2 linked regions of the Homo sapiens genome follow. The protein of the gene in region 1 purifies or fractionates together with the protein of each later gene. This does not show direct contact. Each region holds a gene or a part of one and is shown in the gene's direction. Other genes may lie near its edges.

Region 1 (3,826 bases):
AGTGTAGAGCCTAACTCCGGTTTTTGTATAAACATAATGTATTTTTTGGCACAGTTTAATATAGTAAAATTTCCAGGAATGCAACTCTAATGTAAATCAGAGGAAAATTATACTTATTTGTGGTTTGGAACTTTAACAAGAGTTGTTCATCACTCTAGCAAATCACATAACTGAAGGCAGCACAGCTCGTGGTATTTGAGTTGCCAGAACAACACACCTGCATAGTCTGCATTTGAAGCTTTTGCATTCATGGTGATTCTAAGTTTAGGTGCAAGCATCTGACTACTGTACTTCATTATGTATTCTAGTGTAGTCAGCCTGAACATTTGTATATTTAAACATATGCTATTTCATTACGAATTACTTTCCATTTAAAATCAACTTCTGTATATCATATAGAGATCTAGTTTTATTCTTTTCCTATTGGAGAATCATTTGTCCCAACACTATCTATGAAGTTCTTTACCCATTGAATCATAAAGCCAACTCTGTGCTGTAGGAAGTTCTCACAAATGCATGGATCTGTTTCTGGGTTCTTGATTTTATACCACTGGGCCATGTGTCTTTGTGCCACTATCACACTGTTTTAATTACTTTGGTTTTTCAATGTGTCTTGCGGCAGTTGGTAACAAGAAAGGCAAGTTGCCATCCTAGTTCTCAAAATTGTTTTGGCTATTCTTGGGTTTTTGCTCTTCCATATGAATTTAGGATCCGTTTTCAAGTTCCACAAAAAATTGTTTTTAGACTTTGGTTAGGATTGCATTGAATTTATAGGTTAAGGAAAATTGAGATTTTTTTAATTGAACCATCCCATCCGGGAACACAGGTTATTTCTCTGTTCAGGTCTGCTTTATTTCTTTATTCAGGTCCTCTCTCTCTCTTTTTTTTTTTTTTGTCTTTGATAAAGTTTTATAATTTTAGCTATACAAATCTTACTCATCTTTTATATTCATATTTATGCAGATATATATATATATATACACACATATCCACATCTTTTTATTATGAAAGTTTAAAATATATTCAGAAATATAGAAAATAGGCTAGCAAACATCTACACACTCATCACCCAGCTTCAACAACTAGCTCATGACCAGTCTTGTTTCATGTCAGCCCCTTCACCTCCTCTCACTGAGGTAATAGAAAGCTCCTAGAAACCCTTTTCTGTTATCTGTAATGTGCTACGTGTGTATGCATATATCTTTATCATAAATAATCTTTTAACAATATAATAATATCATCTTTTTAATAGTGTTTTTTCACTGAAAATACAAACAGTAATTTCATAATATTATCAAATATCTGAATATTCTTCAGATTTCCCCAATCATTTCATAAAAGGTTTTTGCAATGCTTCGTTCGAATCAGGACCAAATAAGGGTCCATATACTACACATGGCTGATACATCTCTTAATATTCTTTCTGTAAACATTTTAGTGAAGGGTAATACACATACAGAAAAGTATATAAATCCTAAGTGCATGGTTAGATACAACATCACCGTATGAACAAACCCAGGTGAACAAAACCCAGATCAAGAAACAGAATTTTATCAGCATCTCCCTGAACCTCCTACAGTCACTATGTTTCACAAGCCAACCATACGCCTGACCTCCAGCCCCTAAAATTAGTTTGACCTGTTTTGAACATTATATAAATGGACTCATATACTATGAACTCTTTAGCCTCTAGCTTTTTTCATTTAATATTTGTGAAATTCATCCACATTGTTGAGTATAGTTGTAGTGTGTTCTTTCTCATTGCTTTATACTATTCTCATTGCTTTATACTACATAATGCTTTATATACTGTATGAATGAATAGATTGTAGAGTACTATATCCACTCTATTGGCAGATATTTGGATTGTTTAAGGTTTTAGCTATTTCAGGTAGGGCTGCAATGTCTTTTTTTTGAATTTAGGTGTGCGTTTCTGTTGGGAATACACCTAAGAATAGAAGAGCTGGATGTAGGATGCATTTATATTTAGCTTTATTAGATACTGCCAATAGTCTCCAAAGCAGTGGTTAACAAATTATGGCCCTTGCCAGCCGTATATGAGGGTTCCAGTTACTCCACATCTTTGTCAACACTTGCTGTTGTCTGTTGTTTTCATGTTAGCCATTCTGGTGGGTATATGAAGGCACTGAATTTGGTTTTAATTTGCAATTTCCGGATGACTAATGAAGTTGAGCACCTTTTTACATATTTATTCTCATTCAGGTATCCTCTTTCTCAAGTGTTTATTCTTTTTTTATCTGCTTGATCTATCAGTTTCTGAGACATATATTAAAATCTCCTGCTAAATTAGTGGTTTTATACATTTATTGTAGTACTTCTGTCAGTTTTGGCTTTATATATTTGGAGGTTTTGTTGTTAGGTTCACATTTGTTTCAGGTTGTATCTTTTTACTGAATGGTTCCTTTTGTCACTGTTCTTAATATTTTTCAGAGCTTTACATCTGTTTTGCGTGGTACTAATATTGCTTCATAGCTTATATTTTATTTTGTTTCACTTGGTTTTTTTTCAACTGTGGCTTATAAAAAAACAAAAACAAAAACAAAAAAACAGAATTTCCTGTCTTAACCATTTTTAAGAGTGCAGATCAGCAGTGTTAAGTATATTCACAGTGTTGTGAAACAGAGCTCCAAGATGCTTTCATCTTGCAAAACTGAAACTCTATACTCATTCACCATCTCCCTATTCCCTCCTTCCCTGGTTTTTGTCTTGTTAATATTTGCTTTGCATGTCTTTCTCAATCTCTTTATTTTCAGCCTCTCATTATACTTTCTGTAGAGCTTTTGTACACAGCTATTTTTAAAAAGAAAAATCTAAGAGAATTTCTTTTAGTAGTCAAATATAATGTTTCCATGTACTATGATTACTGTTGTATTTGGGTTTATTTTTACAATCTTATTTTGTATTTTCCATTTTCCTTGCGTATTCTTTGTTCTGCCACCCACCTCACACCCACTGACCCTTGCCCCACTTTCTGTTTTCTTTATTTTTTTTTCACTTTACTAGTATAGAAGCTATTTTTTCTATTTCTGTTGCTTGCTGTTTACCTGTATGTTTTTTTAACTTGTGTACTTAGCTTAAAAAACATATACCTCCTCCAAAACAAAATCACTGTAGAATGCTTTAACTTTGAACTATCCTTTTCCATCTACCATATAACTGTTGAGTAATATTTAGTCCTTTCTGATTTTTAACCCCTCAAAAATTGTCATTATTACAGAAATCTTTACTGTCAATATTTCTTAATAATTTTCTCACCATGCTTCCTGTATCTCATACCTCCTTTCTTGGTTCATTTTCCTTCTTGCTGAAGTATGTCTCTGAGTAGCCCTTTCACTGAGGATCCTTGAGAGGTGTACTACATTTCACCCTTTGTATGTCTGAAAACATCTTTGTTTTACACTTACTCTTGAGGGAGTCTTGCATGCCAGCCTGTGGGTTTAGTTTTGTCTCTGCTGGGATCCAATGGGTTCTCACTTTTAGTCTAGTTTTCATGTTAATCTTTCTATTTGGGATTCCCATATCACATCGGTAGTATTGAATCTCACACATGGATATGATGTGAGGTGGGGATTCAGATTTCTCTTGGGCTGTTGTTTTTTGACCTGTGGCCTGAAGCACTCAGCCAGCTTCCTTCCAACTAAGTCAGTAGCAAATTATTTAGACCCTATTTCAAAAACTGGTCAATCCTGTGAGGGCCCAGCTTTCTGCATTGTTCTCATTGCTAGTTCTTTGCCATCGTGGGCTTGAGACCTTATCTGCCCTGAAGAGAATCACCCTGAAGGTCTGTATCAGGCACCAGGACCCT
Region 2 (3,826 bases), on another chromosome or scaffold:
ATGCATAATGATTAGGATTAGGTGTTTTTCTATTTTAACAAGTTGACTTCTAGAGACATAGAAGACTATTCTGACATGCTACTTAAAATTTCCATACAAATTCAGGCATATTTGTAAAAAAGAAAAAAATATCAGTGCAAAATAAGCAAGATCACATGAGACAACTGAAAGGCACAAATACTATCCAGATGTTTTTTGTTATTGCCCATTTATTTTGGCCAGTGAACATTTGAAAGGCCCAGATATGAAGTTCAGGGACCATGCACTTTGTGTCTCTCCCCAGTATTAATGCACTTACATCTATCTGCTTTTCTCTTTTAGTGGAGGAGATAATGCCTGTTGTGTACAGCAAGACAGTGGGTCATTGTGTATTTACAGAAGTGATGTGGATTCCTCCCAGACTCATTAGTGACCAGGGCTGCTGGGCCTGTTTGGGTTTCCTAGACTAGAGAAGAAGACAGGAACCAGGATGGGAAGACGGACATGTTACATTTTAAGCTGGAGCTTCCCCTGCAGTCCACGGAGCACGTTCTCGGTGTGCAGCTCATCCTGACTTTCTCCTATCGATTACACGTGAGTCAGTCCGCTGGGAGGCTGTCCTCTCCCTTGTGTCTTTTTAGTAGACCAGAGTCCTTCTTCTGATTTCTAGAAGACCCGCACTCTAGCGGGCCCTCTTCCCCATGTAGTTTGGGATTTAACTTAGGCCAATGGAATGGTTTTCACTAGTCATATTAACTGACATGGGCTATTAATAGCTCAGAAGGTTCTAGGCAGTGTTTCCTGCATGGCTACGCTAGGTATGTGAGGGCCTCTTAGGTTTCAGCCAAGACAGGTGACTCTTAGCACCCAGAGCCCTTCAGATCTGATGGCGGTTGGTATTGTTGGTCCTTCTAATGATTTCAGAGGATGGCGACCCTCGTGATGCAGAGCATGGCGTTTCTCCAGTCCTCCTTTCCTGTCCCGGGATCCCAGTTATACGTGAACGGAGACCTGAGGCTGCAGCAGAAGCAGCCGCTGAGCTGTGGTGGCCTAGATGCCCGATACAACGTAAGAGCGCTTCTCATTGTCCAGCTCCTTTGTTTCTCTGTGTTACTGTTCATTAAGTTCTTTAAAGAGGGGAATGAAAAGTAGAAATGTCAGGCCAGGCGCAGTGGCTCATACCTGTAATCCCAGCACTTTGGGAGGCGGAGATGTGCGGATGGATCACTTGAGGTCCGGAGTTTGAAACCAGTCTGGCCAACCTGGTGAAACCCTGTCTCTACTAAAAATACAAAAAATTAGCCAGGCGTGTGGTGCGTGCCTGTAATCCTAGCTACTTGGGAGACTGAGGCAGGAGAATTGCTTGAACCCAGGAGGTGGAGGTTACAGTGAGCTGAGATCTCGCCACTGCACTCCAGCCTGGGCAACAGAGCAAGACTCTGTCTCAAAAAAAAAAAAAAAAAAAAAAAAGAAAAAGAAAAGAAAAGTAGAAATATCATTTCTTTGTGGGTGGCACCAAAGAGGGTCTCTGTAGAATTCTTGCCATGAATTTTTTCAAACTACAGAGAAGGTACACGCATAGTTACACCTAGAAGGGAAGAGAAACAAAATCTGTGTTTGTCGAAGAACTAAATTGCTTATTGCTTTTAGGTCCACGTGGGTGCACACACACACATTGTGTCTTCCATACACACGCTTGGTCACACGCAGGATGTACTCCGAAGGACACTGTAAAATGATGATGTAAAATGTTCATGTAAAGTATTTCAGAAATATTACTAGCCATAGTTTACTGAACTCATAACATATGCCACCCCTGAGTGCAGGCGTTTACCTATATCATCTCCTTTAATCATCATGGCAACCTCTGAGCTGCCTGCATTGTCCTTTCCCCGCACTCCAGCCACTTGTCCCATCACTGCCCCCGCTTGCTCCCTTCCAGCCCCCCTGGCCTTTTTGCTGTTCCTCAAACCCAAGAAGCAGCTGCCACCTCAGGGCTTTTGCTTTTGCCATTTCCTCTGCCAGGCATCCATGTGGCTTATCGGACCATGCCATTCAGGTCCCTGTTCAGATATCCCCAAGCCCAGTCCTTCTCTGACCTGCTTCTACAGTAGCAGCCCCTCCTTCCACCATTCCTCAGCCAGACTCTCCCTCCTGCCGCCTGGCCTACTCAGGATATGTGTTTGTGTGTTTATTTGCTGTCTCCCTCAGCCTTGACAGCAGTGGCATCTCAAATACTATCACATCCGTGCCTAGCACACTGCCTGGCAGATGGTAAGCTCACAGAGATACTTGTTTAAATAATGAACTCATTTTGCAGAAGACGTAACTGGGGCTTAAAGTGATTAATTTTCCCAAAGGCTCAAATCTTGAAAGATAACAGAGCCTGTCTGTGTGCAGAACTCATGCATCTAATCACTCATTCCTCACTTTTATTTTATCACAATGGGGACCATAGAAGTTGAGCTGAGGTACTTCTGAAAATGAAAAAGGGATGTTATCGGTTATTACAGCCATAAACCCAGACTTGTAGATATATAGTGGGTTTTACTGTTGCTCTGACTATAATCAATATAAGTTGTAAAGAATAGGAAGCTGCAACATATGAAATGAATATGGCACTTTTTGTTTGAATGTCTATATATCAGATTACATTAACAGCAAGCAATTATTTCCTCCTTTAAGGGATTATATGCTTATGGTTTGCATTTTATCTATATCTCTATATTTAAAAGTGATAAAGAACTTAGCACCCAGAAAAGACCAAGAAAATGACAAAGGAGTTGGAAGTATGGTTTCTTTTTTTTGTCTTTGTGTAGGGGTTTTTATTTGTATTTTATTTTTATTTTTGAGACAGAGTCTTGCTCTGTCACCCAGGCTACAGTGGAGTGGCATGATCTCGGCTCACTGCAACCTCTGTCTCCCAGGCTTAAGAGATCCTCTGATTTCAGCCTCCTGAATAGCTGGGATTACAGCCATATGCCACCACGCCTGGCTAATTTTTGTTTTCTTTGTAGTAGAGATGGGGTTTCACCATGTTGGCCAGACTGGTCTCGAACTCCTGGTCTCAAGTGATCCATCTGCCTGGGCTTCCCAAAGTGTTGGGATTAGAGGCGTGAGCTTCCATGCCTGGCTTTTTATTTTTTTTTATTTTTATTTTTTTTTGAGAGATGAAGTCTTTCTCTGTTTCCTAAACTGGAGTGTAGTGAGTGGCATGATCATCATTGACTACGGCCTTGAACTCATGGCCTCAAGTGGTCCTCCTGCCTCAGCCTCCCAAGTCACTGGGATTGTAGGCATGAGCCACCACACCTGGCGAAAATACGGTCTGTTAAAATAATTTAAGGAATTCTTTCTCCCGCTGAGATAAAGAGGGGTATTTTAAAAATAGCTTTAAAACCTGTAAAACATGGACACTGACCCCTTATTTCCATCCACAGAAAGAAAGACTGAGAGTAAATGGGCTTAAATTGTTGCAAGAGAGTTTATTCATCTTTGAAGAGAAGATTATTGATACTGCAGTAGGCCACCAAGAACAAGAGGGTGCTCTGTGGGACCAGCCTGGGTGGGCAGCAGCCTGTTTTATTCATCTTTGAAGAAAAGATTATTGATACTGCAGTAGGCCACCAAGAACAAGAGGGTGCTCTGTGGGACCAGCCTGGGTGGGCAGAAGGGTAGAAGGAAAAGGGGAGGAGTCTCCCAGGTGCTCACACCACATCCTCCTCCCGTGTCCCAGATATCCGTGATCAACGGGACCAGCCCCTTTGCCTATGACTACGACCTCACCCATATTGTTGCTGCCTACCAGGAGAGGAACGGTGAGTCACAGGTAGAGCCCATTCAGCCG

Evidence for each region.
Region 2: the proteins of TMEM218 (region 1) and TMEM231 purify together in Homo sapiens (affinity purification with mass spectrometry; one large-scale study listed by BioGRID and IntAct). This does not show direct contact.

The regions. Positions count from the first base shown.
Region 1 is NC_000011.10:125,104,954-125,108,779, reverse strand, and holds part of TMEM218 (transmembrane protein 218), read left to right. Parts: intron 1-3,826. UniProt on the Homo sapiens protein: May be involved in ciliary biogenesis or function.
Region 2 is NC_000016.10:75,542,573-75,546,398, reverse strand, and holds part of TMEM231 (transmembrane protein 231), read left to right. Parts: intron 1-321; exon of another isoform or gene 322-444; coding exon 445-573; intron 574-903; coding exon 904-1,047; intron 1,048-3,715; coding exon 3,716-3,797; intron 3,798-3,826. UniProt on the Homo sapiens protein: Transmembrane component of the tectonic-like complex, a complex localized at the transition zone of primary cilia and acting as a barrier that prevents diffusion of transmembrane proteins between the cilia and plasma membranes.